2 separate regions of the Homo sapiens genome follow, and region 2 is linked to region 1. A link means that fine-mapping ties the variant in region 1 to the expression of a gene that starts in the linked region. Tissue or cell type: whole blood. Region 1 holds a variant in brackets; the other region holds the start of a gene. All regions are shown on one strand. Distances are from middle to middle.

What was found. PIP is the estimated chance that this variant, and not a neighbour inherited with it, causes the effect.
Region 2: it holds the start of ANKRD22, and the variant in region 1 is fine-mapped to the expression of ANKRD22 in whole blood (INTERVAL, PIP above 0.99).

Annotation. Positions count from the first base shown.
Region 1 is chr10:88,905,124-88,913,123 of GRCh38, reverse strand. STAMBPL1 (STAM binding protein like 1) reads right to left here. Exons shown (of 11, transcript NM_020799.4): 3 at 7,464-7,681; 4 at 4,347-4,422; 5 at 2,113-2,208; 6 at 1-23. Among named protein-coding and RNA genes, the nearest start is that of ACTA2-AS1, 24 kb to the left of the region's middle. The variant C/T (reference allele first, on the strand shown) is at 3,656.
Region 2 is chr10:88,848,517-88,856,651 of GRCh38, reverse strand. It overlaps ANKRD22 (ankyrin repeat domain 22), which reads left to right and starts at 4,808. Exons shown (of 6, transcript NM_144590.3): 1 at 4,808-5,065. The coding sequence starts at 5,045.

The DNA.
Region 1 (8,000 bases):
AGAATTTCAGCTTTATATTTGTTCTAAAAAGTGTGGCAGCCAGAAGAGAAGGTTAGTTTCCAAGGAGAAACATTGAACTGGAATTAGACATTTTCAGTCTTCAAGCAGACAGAGAAAATGCTAGATACTGTGATATGCCCACAGGGACACTCATGGAACAGTGAGAGAAATACATAACATCAGGGCAAAAGCCCCTTGATCTGATTAACATAGCAGTTCTAAATCCACTGATATTTTACCAGAGACAGGCCATGACAATCAGGATCCCTTCATTCCCTAATGCTTTTAAATACTGGAAAATCAACGTCAAGGTTGTTTGCTCAGTCAGACCAACAAGACCATATGAAACAAAATATCTCACCCCTACTGCACTTCTAATATAGTGGCCACTAGCCACATGTGGTTATTTGAACTTGATTAAAATTAAACAAAATTAGAAATTCAGTACCTCAGGGACACTAGTCAGTCACATTTAAGTACCCAGAAGCCACATGTGGCTAGTGGATACCATATTGGAAAGTGCCAAACAGAACACTTCCATCATCACAGGAGTTCTATTGAACAGTGCTGCCCTAGAACCTTTCGCATTTGACTCTAGAACTCATACTCTGCTGGAAATTTATGGATAAGAAGGAATCACTAAAAAATGGTTATTAAAATGTGTTCCAACCTTCTCTGTCACCACTAACCCAGAGTTTTGCTAAAAAGGAGGAGTCCCAAGCTCTCCAGTTCTAACAAAATATCCAGGCTTATTAGGTCAGATAATATGAAATATTAATGAGCCTTTCAGGTGATTTTGATAGAAACTAGATTTGGGAGCTACTGTAAGATGGCGGTAGCATGGGGGACACAGCTTATAGTGGCACATTCAGGTGCATACAAATCATCCTGGGGCTAATTGCAGTTGCAAATCCTGATTCAGCAGGTCTGGGGTGGGGCCTGAGATTCTGCGTGTCTAACAAGCTTCCAAATGATGCTAATGCTGGTGAAGCAAGGGCTCACAGGCATTGCTGTTTATCTCTCCTAGGCTCAGTCCTGCTATTCTAAACCCACAGAGATTCCCACATGGGTCACCACTGTAGGCTATGAAGTGACTGGTATCAAAGGCAAAACATGCAACAGCTGCAGAGCCTGTTCCTCCCAGGAAGATCATGAAGAGGAAGATCATACACATTGCTGACCGTGGAAAGGAGACTTGAACTGGGCTTTCGTCTCCCTTGCTGTTGTTGCTTTGTCTTACCCTCCAAGAAAATTTCTATCTTTCATATTTCAAGTCACATTATTAATATACACACTTGAGGGACATTTCCAATTTCACCATTCCCTCTACCACTTCGTTAAAACTCTCCACTCAAGCCAGCCTTCCACCTATGCCCATAGAAAGTCAAAAAGCTCAATGAGCATTCTCAGAGATGATGAGATTGAACTGAAGTGAGAGTCAGTGAAGGTGGTAACCCCTAAAGCAAATAAAACACAAACAAAAAAGCAAAATAACATCTATAATGATGCTATGTTGAACGTGAGTATCCCATACATTCACTGGCCAATTTCTTCTTCCAATGCCTTTCTGCCTCTCAGACATTATCATAATGTTCACTCTTTATTAATAACAATCCAGAAGCCACCACTTTTGGGTGATATGATTACATTTCAACCACAAGGTTAGCTGTTATTCTATCTCAATGCAATACTGACTGTAACATTCTAAGAATCAAATTCACATTTCTAAGGCCTACATCATTAGGCACATCAGAAACCATATACTGCTCTCCCTACCTCCTACTGGCTGTTCATCTGGCAAAAGAGCAGCCATCTGGCTCAAGGTTATCTGGCTCAAGAGTTAATCAAAAAGTTCTACTTAAATCGCTGCAGGAAATCTGTTTTCTAACACATTGCTTTGTTAGATATTGTAGGGAAATAGAAATACCACATTGTTGGTGAAACTGCTTAACCTGGATATCAGCATAAATTTTTTATTGGTTCCATATCACTGCATCTTTAATTTTTAATTTAAATGCACAAAACATTTGAAAAACTCATCACATAAAAATGAAATTCAAAAAATACTTGTACATAAAATAGTCATGAAATAAATGTACCAACTGAACTTACTTTGCTTTGCAAATATTCTTGGTATTCTACGTTATATTTCTTTAAAAGGTCGTTTTTCAATTCATCTGTCCTTGGGAATGCAATCTCCTTCAGTTTCTTTTAAAAATATATATACATATTGATTAGTGGGATTTTCAATACACTCTTTCAGATCATCAGGTGAGAAAGAAAAACAGCTGGTAGGTATACTGCAAATAAAGTCATGAGTAACCAAAGATGATGGCAGAAAAATAAATCTCTTTTTTATGGGTCCAAAATATAACTTTCCAGCAGGAAAGAAACACTATTATCCCTTTTGTAAGACCTTTATTGGCCCCACTGATTGGATAAGCATTTTGTTATAGCCCAATGCTATAAAATGTAAATAGCTAGAACTTTGTGGCTACCTTTGTGGTACCCCATTTTTAGGCAGTGAGTTTGAGATCAATGACTTGTTCTATAGTACATAAATCATGTAGCATCAGAATTAGAAGGGATGTGAGAGAATATATGGTGGATAGGGATTTCCAGACATGCTAGACTGTAAAAAGAATAGCTGAGGCACTTTTTATAAAAATACAGACCCCCCCAAGCCTAATCTGGATCTACTGAATTAACACCTGTAGAGAAGGGGTCTGGGAATCTGGATCTCAAACAGCTTCCTCAGAGATCGTTAATGGCAGGAAAATCTGGGAATTCTTATATAGTCCAACTACCTCTTCTTTTTTAGAGTTGAGGATACAAAGGCCTGGAGAGACTGAAAGTCCTGTTCGGTATTATGCAACCAGCTAGCGGCCCATTTAGGACTGGAACTCAAGTCTCCTGACTCTAGCTCTTTCACCAAATTTCTATTCTCTTAATCCTTTGTCATTCATTTATGTATTTATTCATATATCTATTCAATAAGCATAAACAAGGGAAATGTATATGGTTTTGGAGAATTTTTCTCCTACAAAAAAAATAAGCATAACCCTAAGTTATAGTACATGAGTCACCGTGACAGCCTGGTACCTTTGGTTTCCAAACAGAACTCTCTGAGGTTGAATGAACAAGAGAACTGAGGGGAAATGTTACACAAAGACATGATAATAAATGATACTTCAGGTAAGTGACTGTAGACATTAAAAAAGTTGGCTGGGTGCGGTGGCTCACACCTGTAATCCTAACACTTTGGGAGGCAGAGGCAGGTGGATCACTTGAGGTCAGGAGTTCAAGACCAGCCTGGCCAACATGGTGAAACCCCATCTCTATTAAAAATACAAAAATTAGCTGGGCATGGTGGCAGGTGCCTGTAATCCCAGCTACTCAGGAAGCTGAGGCAGAGAATTGCTTGAACCCAGGAGGCGGGGGTTGCAGTGAGCCGAGATTGCGCCACTTCACTCCAGCCTAGGTGACAGAGCAAGACTCTGACTCTAAATAAATAAATAAATAAATAATGTAGATGACCATTTGACAAAATCTGCATTTTGCTTATGCATCCTCAGGTCTGAAAATACTCATAGGAAAGCCTTTATTTCATTATTTGGTAAAGTGTTTTTCAAAAATTATTTAAAATTTCATGCTA[C/T]AATTGGCTTTGTGTACATGATTTTATCTTCCTTCATATAAGACCAACACAAACTATTAAAGACAAATAAATGGGAAACATTGTAAATGTTTATTTAAAAGAATATATTCACAGCTAGACATAACCAAAATTATAGATATAGCAATTATTGGTGATAAATCATTAAAAAATTGATGATAAATTGCAACACTCTTTTTCCTTTATAGTATTTTAGTCTACCACCTCCTGCTTCCCCCACAACACTTTCTAATCTATAATTCCAGTCCTATAAGATGTAAATAGCTAGAACTTTGTGGCTGCCTTAATAACTAACACTAATTTTCAAACAGTTATTGAGTTCAGGGCTGTATAAAATAATCAAAAGCAGCCAAAATGACCATCTGAAAGAAGTTCGCAGAAATACACAACATTCTCTTAACCTCTGGGAGAGATTATTGTAAAATAATTCCTTCCTCACACTATTAGGTAACGTATTTCTTTCTTTTCCCCCAGCATCAATTAGACAAACCACACTGGCTCAGTGATGATCATTAAATGTCTAAGAAAAAATCGAAACATCATAGTTAATGGAATGAATTTCTTGCGCTCAAACTCTCAAGAGAAAGAGAAAGGGGAGGAAGGGGAAGGGTGAATCAATAATGGATACTTATGGAGCATTTGATTCCACAGTGGAGAAGAAAACCCACAATACCTTCATAATATCCTGCTTTTCAGGTACTGCACATTGCTGGTAATCTCGATGGTTAGGAAGCTTTTCTACAAATAAGCTAAGGAAGAGAAAACATGTCCTTAGCATTATGTGACAGCAAAAGTTCAATAATGCTTTCTAATAAGGGAATGAGGATCCTTTTTCAAAAATGACATGTTTAATAACTTATTCATTTACCTTCAGTCTTGCCATCTGCCTTTTCACTAAAGTCTGGCATGAGTATTATTTTGGTATTAATGGTTAAGCTCAACCAACTAAGCACCAAAGCTAACAAGATTAAGGTCAGGGTACTTTCCAAACAGTTCAAGTCACTTTGATCTTTCTCAGGTACTGCATGCTTAGCCCCAAAAGAGCACCACCTTACTTTAGCATACTGCTGGCAACAGAGAGAATCACATAAAAATATCAGAGCATGGAAAGAGTGATGTAAATCCCTTCTCACTCTTGAAAAAAACTCAAACGACCACTGATGAATCAGCAGCGCCATCGTGTATCAAAAAACTCTTAACCGAAAACTCATAACTAAGAAAAGTGACAACCAGAATCCCTAGTGAATTAGGAGTTGCTAATTAGGAATTCATTATTTTTCGTCACCGTTTGAGGAACAAGAGACAGCAGCAGTGAAAGGAAATTCCTACAGCAAACCAGGTGCATCGCTTCCAGGTAAAGTGAAGAAACTGCTACCACAAAGGCAGGGAATTCTCTTTTTTATGCACTGATGTATCCTCAGCCTGAAGAATAGCATCCAGCTCATAATAAGTGCTCAATAAATATTTGCAAAATGAATGAATAACCCTTCCTTGATAAATCATAATGAGCTGTAAATGCTATTTCTGATCAAACAATATGCCTTATACTTACTGATTCTGTAAATCAAATCATACACACATATACTCATCATTTAATTTCATCTGATCACAAGGTTATAGGTTAGACAGAAATGTTAGCATAATTCCCATTTTAAATGAGAAAATTAAGGCTTAAAGAAGCTTTAAAAGTTGTTAGCTATCTAAGCCTTTATAAATAGAATAAATTCAAAGACATTTAGAGCAGAGGGGACCTCAGAGATTTTCTCCCATAAATCTTTCATTTGTAGATGAGGAACTAAGGCCCAGGAAGAATAAGTGAATTACAAATTATCATACAACTAATAATACAAGAGAATTCAAATATTTTGATTACACAGTAATTCTGAGATATAGGGGCCTTTTCCTTTTCACCAGGCTCACAATTCCATAGGAACATATGCAAGATCAGAGCAGAAGGTGAAAAAGAAATATTATTAATTGGTAACTTATTCAGAAACAAAAATTATTGGAAAAGTTTGGCTATCAATGGTGGAGAATAACTTCTAATTTCATATTTATTACTTAACTTTCTAAAAACAAGTGATTTTCCCAGGTAGGGTGAAGGTTGCCAACCATTCTCTAAATTTTCAAGTTCAGTAACTTGAATAAAATGCAGATCTCAATTTTTGCATACCATGTAAACTGCCTTTAATTTTGCCCTCGGTAGAATCATGGAAGGCAATTTTTAAAATATTGTATCTTTCAACTTCTTAAATGTTCTCAGGCTAAGCCCCTGACTAAGCTAGTGATATTATATGTGAAATAAGCCAGGCACAGAAACACAAATACTGCATGATCTCACTTACAATGTAGAAGGAATCTAAAATAGTTGAATTCACAGGGGGGCAGAGAGTAGTCTGGTAGCTATCAGAGTTCCAGCAGTTGAGGATGGGGGTGAGATGTTGGTCAAAGGATACAAAATTTCAGTTAGACAGGAGGAATAAGTTCAGGAGGTCCAGTGTATATGATGATTATACTTAATAACAATGTATTGCATAATTATGCAGCTTGGGTCTGGCACAGTAGCTCATGCCTATAATCCCAGGACTTTGGGAGGTCAAAGCAGGAGGATCACTTGCATCCAGGAGTTGGAGATCAGCCTGGGCAACATAGTAAGATCCCATCTCTACAAAAATAAAAAATTAGCTGAGCATGGTGACACATGCCTGTAGTCCCAGCTACTCGGGAGGCTGAGGTGGGAGGATCACTTGAGCCAGGGAGGTCGAGGCTGCAGTGAGCTATGATTGTGCCACTGCACTCAGCCTGTGCAACAGGGAGACCCTGTCTCAATAAAAGGTCTGTGAGGTAATAAATATGTTAATTGTCTTGACTTGGTCATTCCACAATATAAGCATATATGTATCAAAACATGTTGCATACCACAAATACATATAATTTTTATTTGTCAACTTAAATAAAATTAATAAATAATAAGCTAGCAAAAGTAATCGGCATGTGACTTTCAATTAAAAAAAAGAAGGTTCATCTTAGAAGATATAATTATTGATGACAGGACATCCTTTCAACTAGTAAGTTACCAGATTTATAGTAAGGAAAGACGAAGTCCCATTTCTGTTAACTCTTAAACTAGGATATGTCACTAACAAATATCTGTCTAATAGGAAACATGATACTCTGACATGGCTGTTTTGATGTAGCCACTTTTACTCAACATTTTGACAGCTCTTTTGTACATAGTGTTCTTAATAGCCAAATAAAATGTTTTTTAAAAAGAAATAATAAGTGCTATATGAAACTTGAATGAGTTTCCTGAACCTATCCCTGAACCTGAATCAGATCTTTCCTGTGTCTCCCAACTTGTCCCCTAGACTCAACCCACCAAATCAAATTTTTTAAATGTTGATGGCATGTTCTAGGTGCTATAAATGGAGCTGCACTGTAGTTCCTGCTCTCATAAAGCTTCCATTTCTGTCGGGGAAAATCGCATGAAAAAATAAATTATATTTAAGAAGAGTGAAACATGTATTAAATAGATTACTATGCTGGCCTTGGAAAGGAAATCTGATAACCCTGAGCCTCCTGCCCTCCCTGACCCTAAGCCTCAGAGATGGTGTTGGGATGCCTGTGAGTACATTAGTTGGTAATTTAAAAACTTGAACATTTAATGCTCCTAGAGACTGTGCAATTGGTCTGAATATGAAAACATTACTGATACCCAAACTGCCACATCAAAATAACTATGTAAATATTTTTCCAATTTTCTCACTTCAGAGGCCTTTAAAACACTTACGTTATAAATTTATTATAAAGAACAAAGGCATTTTCCAAATTTCCTTCTTCCAAATACACAGACGCCATCCTCTCCATCTCTACTCCAGACCTAAAGTAACGTCGTGGAGTGATGTCTTCACTGATGGTGATATTACAACCAAGCTTGCTTAGGGCACGGACTCGCTCTTCTGGGCTTAGGGAAACATCTGTATGGTCAGGCATAGCAGCTAACTTTTTCTGCAAAGCAAAATTTAAATCTCTGATTAACTGTTGATTATAGTAAGAAAAGGATATGACTAATATTATGGACATATGTTCTTTATGAGGAACCTAACACCATTACCTAAGGAAATCTTTTCATAAGTTAATGATATAATCAAAGTAAAGCATTTTTGCTTAAACATGCTTTATACAACAAAAATACATGGTTTATACAACAAAAAGACAAACCTCCAAGGTAAACATACAGTTTTATTGGAGTGGGATCTCACTTTAGGTTTCAGGGTATGCAAATGTTTCAGGTCATTTTAGGTAAAATATCATTGCTCCTCATATC
Region 2 (8,135 bases), 57 kb after region 1:
TGGTGGGATGAGGCCGATAGGATTGCAAGCATATAGAAATGAGTAGATCTCTTTCTCCCTCTTTAGCGTTGTAATCTCACATGGAGTGCTCCTTAGAAAATAGACCAGGTTTCAAGAAAGGGTCATATATGCAAAGCAATCTCCAAACAAGGAAGGAGCCAAGAAACCAAATAATAAGGCAGACAAAATCAGTTTTTTGATAAAGGGTAATTTATTGGGGGAACTTACAGACAGAAGTGTGGCCTGCAGTAGCAAGACAAATAGATCTCCACACCAATACACCCCAGACCCCGGGCTTATATATCATAAGGAAAGGGGATACATGCTCTATAGAGACAATTAAAGACAACCCCCCAGAACAGGCAAGAGTGCTGTGTGCATCATAACCTATATTTGTGTGATAACATCAAGTTTGCTTTGGTCTAAAGGCAGGATTTACAGTAAGTATGTGTTCTTACACTAAGGACAGTAAATAAAGTAGGAATCCGAAGGCATTTATGGGACTGGGGTTAATGAGAAGTCAACATGGTGGATTAGCATCCAAGATGAAGTTAATTTTGTCTCCACATACCAGTAGGAAAAAAAAAAAGCTAGCTTGCAGAATGCCAGGGTAGGCATTGAAGAACCAAACATAGAAAAGTGTGTTCAATGCTAGGAGATAGCTTAATAACTCATAGTTGGCAAAGTCTGTTATTTCTACCTCCTAAACTCTAGAGTTTATCCTATTCTCTCTATCCACACTGCTGCTCTTCTGCCCCAGGTAACTATTATCATGCAGCTGACCTAATGCAATAACCTCCTAACTAGTTGCTGTTTCTTTTTTCCTGCCTCAGATCCACTCTCTGTACAACAGCCAGAGTGAGCTTTATTATATAAATAAAATTCTGATTACAACACTCCTCTACTCAAATCTCTCCAATGGGAGCCAATTTTACAGTAAGTAGCTAGTCAGACATGAGCAGAGTAGGAGAGGGCTCCCCCCACCCACCAGGAATGTCAGGTGAACATCAGGTGATAGTAAGGAGGTTGTTAACCGTCTCTCTAAAATAATAGTTGAGGGCCAGGCGTGGTGGCTCATGCTTGCAATTCCAGCACTTTAGGAGGTCGAGGTGGGCAGATCACCTCAGGTCAGGAGTTTGAGACCAGCCTGGCCAACATGGTGAAACCCCGTCTCTACTAAAAATACAAAAATACAGGTGGCAGGTGTCTGTAATCCCAGCGACTCTGGAAGCTGAGGCAGGAGAATCGCTTGAACCTGGGAGGTGGAGGTTGTAATGAGCTGTGATTGTACCACTGCACTCCAGCCTGGGCAACAGAGCAAGACTCCATCTCAAAAAAAAAAAAATTATATATATATATATATATATATATATATATATAAAATAACAATTGGTCACAGCCAGTGCCAGGGAAAGGCAGTCTCCCAATAGACAGAAAAAACTTGAAACTGGTGATCAGCAGCTTCCTGATAAGATCTCAGGAGTTGGGCGAGTGGGTTCAAGCATGCACATTAAGAGGCAGAATGGCAGAGTTTAACTGGTATATTACCTTCTAGGGACATTCAGCTGGTAAGAGAAGAGTGCTTCAAGTAAGCATGCATACAACTCCAGTAAACACACTGTGCATGCTCCCCTCCCAAATCCTGGTGGGCCACTGCACATGTGGACAGCCCACCAAAGGGCAGAATCAGGGGAGAAGGAATGCAGGACCCTGGAAGTATGCCAACGTATAAAAACCCCGAGTCAAAAGTCAAACTGCACACTTGTCTTTCAAGTTGCCCACTTGGTCCTCTTCCAAATGTACTTTACTTTGTTTATTCCTGCTCTAAAGCTTTTTAATAAACTGTCGCTCCTGCTCTAAAACTTGCCTTGGTCTCTTCTTCCATCCTATGGCCCCCAGTTGAATTCTTTCTTCTGAGAAGGCAAGAATTGAGTTTGCTGCAAACCCACACAGATTCACTGCTGGCTGGTGACATATTTTGGTGCCGTGTGACTCAGATAACTTCCACTGCTAATGTCAATGTTGGACAATGTTAGATAATGTTGAAGGATTAAGATATCAGCGTAAAACTGAGTTTCTGTGGACTATACTTCTTTGTTATGCTCTACTGAACCCCTCTTGGGGGGAAGTCTTTGGGATACACCTTACAAGAGACTCATCTCTCACAGACAGTTGGCTGCTGGTCAGTGGAGGTTGGCTGCATTTACAGCCAGGATCAAAGGATGCCACTAATTTTAAGTCCCTAGTGTTTAATTCAGATTAAACACTAGGTTTATTTCTTGACAGAAGACATTTGTCTTCTTGACAGTGTTATTTCTTGACAGAAGACATTTACCTGTGAAAGCTGTTTTCTGGAACTTCTTTTCTTTACCTGTCTTTGTAATTATAGGCTCAAAATTGCCAGAGGAAGAACCCTAAACACTTAAAAATATATCTGTTTATCCAACTTCATTCTGACAATATGCCTCCGTATTCCAATTTGACACTATAGTTTACGAAGTCCTCTTCCTTCACCTTTAATTCTCCTTTTGGCTTAGACTAGAGTTTCTCTACATTAGCACTCTTCTGAGCTGGGTAATTCTTTGCTCTGAGAGGCTGTCCTGTGCACTGTAGGATGATTAGCAGCTTCCCTGGCCTCTGCTCCCCACATTAGAGTACCATGCTCCCACTCCTAGTTGTGACCACCAAAAATGTCTCCAGACATTGCCAAATGTCTTTAGTTTCCAATAAAACGACGTTCTCCATTAAGCAACATAATTTTTTAGTGTATGTATGTCCCATATGACATTTCAGAAATTTATCTGAAATTCAAATTTAACTGAACATCTTATCTTTTTCGTTGCTAAATCTGCAGTCTATCTGGGGGCGAGATAACCCCTGGTTGAGACCCAATGGCCTAGAGTTAAATCCAAGTGTTTTACAAATAACAATGAGTCAACTGCTTTTTTCATTGGTTTGTTTTTTGAGCTAACCCTACATCATTTGCAATTATAATGAGTACTGTTCCTTTAGAACCAGATGTTGTCAAGAGATGCAGAATCTAATAAAATGAGTTTTGATCCTGATTGAAAGTTAAAGAAACATTTAGAGCTCAGTCAGGGAGGAAAGAGCTTGAAGAAGAAAGCTAGCAGCAACCTTAGGAGAGAAGCAATGACAGTGAAGAGTTCTGTCCACACAAATTAGTTGAAAGAGGTTACAAAAGAGGCTACCAGAGGTTACAAAATATTGCATAACAGAGTGAAGTACCCAATGGATATACCATTAATGTTTTTCTAAGTCAATGGGAAGACACTTAAATGTCTTAAGAGTCTACAGAAATACAAAATCAAACCAAGCCAAAGAGGAAGTCAGCTGCAATTTTAGTGGGTATTGCAGACTTCCCTCTCCTCCAACGGAAGAATTAGCTAATTCTTAAACTCCAGAGAGGCTGGCCTCGATGTCAACTGCATAGTGAAACATAAAATCTTTGAAATAATTATAAAAATAGCTCAGTATATCCACCAGTGGAGTAAGAAGAATTTCCCTGAATATTTATAAGCACAGGCCTAGTATCCTGGTCACTAGTTTCTGGCCACTAAGGAGCCTCAACTGATTGGGAAAATCACATCAATTGGTTTGAGATGGTTGAACTATTTCTTCCATGATATTATTGAGCAAATAGGCTTGCTGCCCCCTGCTCACAGAAGCCAATATCTGGACACTGGGTTTTGAGGAAAGAAAAACTTTATTGCAAGACAGGTCAGCAAGGAGACAGGAGGTGGGCTCAAATCTGCCTCCCCAGTTTGGAATCTGAGAAAATGTATGGCTTAGAGGGTGAGGGAAAGGATTTAGGAATGTTGGTTTGGCAGGGACTGATTGAAGGGCTTCAAATTTGACCACTAAAGGTAAGGTATGTTGAGGCAGATTTCAGCCCTGGATCTTTTGGGCCAATGAGCCCCTAGCTTCTGAAAGAGGTCCTGCATTTAGGTTCCCGTCATGTCCTTGTCTTCTTGGTTCCCAGGGGAGGGATCATTTGTTCTAGGTTCTGTTAGAGGCAAAAACATTTTTATTGTGCATGCCTGGGCTAAATGACTTACAGTTTTTGGCTCTGTTATATCTACAGAGTAAATTGACATTTGTTATCAACAAAGTACGGCCCATTTGGGCTGGTCCCATGGTTATAATGGGTGTGTGGACGGTCGAGTGTTTCAATTCTGGGAAAGTTTGATGTGATTGTATTCAGTTCAAGGAAAATGTGTGAATGATATCATATATAGCATATAAAATGTTTACAATATTTAAGAGATTGGGCATACTAGCATGTTTGATAAATAAATTGATGATGCAATTTAAAATGCATAACAGAGTATTTGATTTTAGACTTATGATTTTTAAATTGAATATTATAAAGTAATTTGGCTAAATGTGTGAATAGTATTGGAATATTTAAAACAACTTAAGATTTATTATGTTAGTAAATTTATTAGTTTACAAAACTGCATAAATAGCTGGAAAAGCGTTACTTGTTAGGCTGAGAATTTTGAAGATTATTTTTCAAGTTCTTTGCCAGACACGTGTGGCTCTCACAAGTAAGTTTGTTGGTCTCTAGCCTTTCTCAATGGCCACTGAAAACCAGATTTTGATTACGAAATGTCTGAAATACAGTATCTTGGTTTGAACCGTGAGTCCTTCCTGCCAATGTAAGAACTTTTCTTCCTCCCTTAACTTTGCTTCCTTCTTTCCTGCATGTTACCACTGGCAGAGCAAATATGACTCAGAAACCGGCTCCTCAGGGTTGTAACATTAGATGATACAGGCTTGGGTCGTTACACATGACACCAGTGCCTTTGTTTCATTGGGCTGGGCTCTCTGGAAGGTGTGCTGCTGCCTGAGCTGCTGGAAAAGCACTGACAGGTGTTTGCTAGAAAAGCACTCCTGGAGCTTGCCACCAGCTTGGACTTCTAGGGACTTTCCTCTCAGCCAGGAAGGATTTTGATATTCATCAGAAATACCTCCAGAAGATTCAAGGAGCTGTAGAGGTGAAGTAAGCCTGTGAAGGACCAGCATGGGAATCCTATACTCTGAGGTACATCACCTTTCTGAAAGCAGAGTTCCAAAGATGTTAAAAGTTACTCATGCTTTTCAGATGCAATTTTCTATCCCTGTTAATATATTTCTGTTTTGTCTGTTCAACTCCCTGGGGGAGCATTAAGTCAGAAAAAATAAAGTCCTATGTGTTATTCTTGTTGATATTCTTAATAGTTTAAGACAAAGTATTTTGTAATTCTAAAATATTAGCTAGATCTAAGTTGAGATGAATATAATACACATTTCATAGTATCTGGATGTTTGCAAGGATAATTTGGACAAAATCGAGTTTGAGTTGTGCTTTTCTCATGACAAACACTCAGAGAAAAAGAGAAAATTGTACTCAATTGGATTTTCTAAATATCCAAAAGATTGACTGCCTCTTTTATGGAACCACATGACCAGAGTAATGCCTTTCAGCTTGGTATTTGAAGGGAGATTCACCTTTAGTAAATATTAGTAAAGACTATCACTATGAAGAAGAGGAATAATAACATATTTTGATGATTTGATTATTTTCTTTTCACATCTGATAAATACTGAGGTACTTTTACTTGTATTGGAAGTAACTTATTAGAATCAAATGGATTTTTAATGATGTTTCAAGAAAGTACAAGCAAGGAATGTTTAGACAAGAGTACAAGAGGTGTAATGATGTCATTATACATAATTTACTCTCTCTCTCCTCTGACACAATTAACTGGTTAATCTGCATTTCATTGCAGATGCTCAGGGGAACCTTCTTGGATAGTTTTGATCTAGTATTAAAGACAGTTTATTTGCAGTTATTTCTAATGCCATGTGTGTATATATCTCTCCGTGTGTGCAAATGCAGTGTTTGATTGGTTTATAACTCTAGGTATGTCTTGCTCAGTGATTTTAGCCTCATGAAGGGATCATATACATGAAAATGACAAAACATATAGTGCTTTTAAATGCTACTCTGGTAACTCTCAAACTTTAGACTGCCCAAGTGTCAGGGAGAGAAGTTTGTTTGAAATGCAGTTTCAAGGGACTCCAACCCAGAGAGTCTGTTTCACTCAGTCTATGGTAGGATACAAAAGTATACTTTTTAAAAGGAGCATCCCAGGTGGTTCTGACATAGGGGTGATCTGTTTACCACCATCCTGAGAAAGAAAGACTGCCACAGGCCAGTGCTTTCCCGTTTTTAATGTCTATACAGATCTTCTGAAGGTCTTGTTTAAATGCAGATTCTTAGTTTGTAGACCTGGGTGGGACCTAAGATTCTGCATTTTGGTTGCTTTTTCAGATTGCATGTGGGAATTATATGTGATTTGGAAAAAGGAAAAAAAAAAGCCTAGTCTCATCCTCAGGTATTCTGATGTAGAAAGTTGGAAGTAGGACCTTTCATCTATAGTTTTAAAGAGTTTGAGACTCTTTAAAATTAAATAGTAATCTCTTAAATATTTAAACATAGCCTACTCATTTGTAATATATCATTTGCTCTGTGTTTCCTAAGGATAAAGATTGTGAGCTACTCATTAAGGACAAGAAAAAAGCCTGCTGGATCCCTGGTCCTATGTTGCCTGGAAGAATCTATTCAAAAAAAAAAAAAAAACTTCCCCCAATTTGAGTGCGGGAAGCTCCTCTAGATTGGGGACATAGGGTTATCATTTTTCCTTAGAGCTTTGCAGTGCTAATAGTTATGCAATATATATTTTTAAGAAAGAAGGAGAGAATGAGGGAGGATCCCAGAGAGCTGGTCCTGAAATCTGCACTAGAGGATAAGCTTAGAGCTCAGTGAGAGGCCCTAATTTTGAATAAGTAACTCCAACTGCGTAAGATGGACTTTTAAACAAGGCTGATTCATTTAAACCCTTATCAAAGGTATTTGTTCATAATATTTACAATAGCAACAAACATGTATTTAGGGCTTCTTATAGATTAGGCCCTATTTTAAGCACTTTATATATGTATTAACTCATTTAATACAGCAATCTTGTAAGAGTCACTTTTAGTATCCTTATTTTACAAATGAAGAAACTGAGGAAAAGGTAGTCACTGGCTCATAGTTACACAGTTGAAAAGTGCTTATTGGCTGGAGATTGGTGGCTAGGATGAGTCCTGTGTTTACTCATTCAAAGAGATTCTTCTTACATCACTGCTGAACTACTAAATTTTTCTACTACTTGTTATTTCAACAGATATGTCATGCTCCATAAGAGAATTGGTCTTAACCACTCTGGTGTTCTGCCACTGTTCTAACCAGGATGGTGCCCTGTTCCCTTAGTGGAAAGAATGAGTAAACTAAATCCAGGTCCAATGAGGTACATTCTACTGCTACCTTGCAACAGAGAACTGTTGCATTGTGAAGTAGCACAAAAATCGGAAAGAAGAAAAATGCTGAGAACTTAAAAGAGTTCAGGAACTAATACTTAGGAGACTTAAAGAATCTTTTACAGACTTTTGGTCTCTTCAGTTGCAGACACAGGCCCCAAAAAGCGTTTCTTGAAAATCATATCTTAAATGATGTATTCCTTTAAACATTGGGAAGTTCTCATTATAAGGCTGTAAGTAAAAGGATGCACACACACCCACACACACACACACACACACATGCACATGCACACACACAAACTTAAAATTAATCCTTTGGCAATGGATATGTTTTTCAGAGAAGCTGATGTTACTACAGAAAAAGGAAATATAGTTCAAAAAACAGAAAGATTGTCTTGAAATATACAATGCCTAGGGAGAGCAATTTAGATCAAGCAAGTTTTATTGGAAAAGCTGGTACAGTTGAGGAGGAGAAGTCAGGGAATACAGGAATAGAGATGTGACTAATTGAATGGCCATTGGACTGAAAGTCAAGCAATCCTATATTTTAGACCTGATTGTGCCAGGAACTTCAAGGGATTTGAGAGGAAGTCATTTAACCTCTCTGAGTCACAGTTTTAATATTACAAAACAAGAGAGCTGAATGAGATCTGGTTTCACATTTAACATCGTGTCATTCTGTGATATGAGAAAGGCTAGGCAGAGACAATGGGGAAAAAATTGCATTCTCACAATCTTCCCAGCTCTCTCCATCTACCTTGTTTATGTAT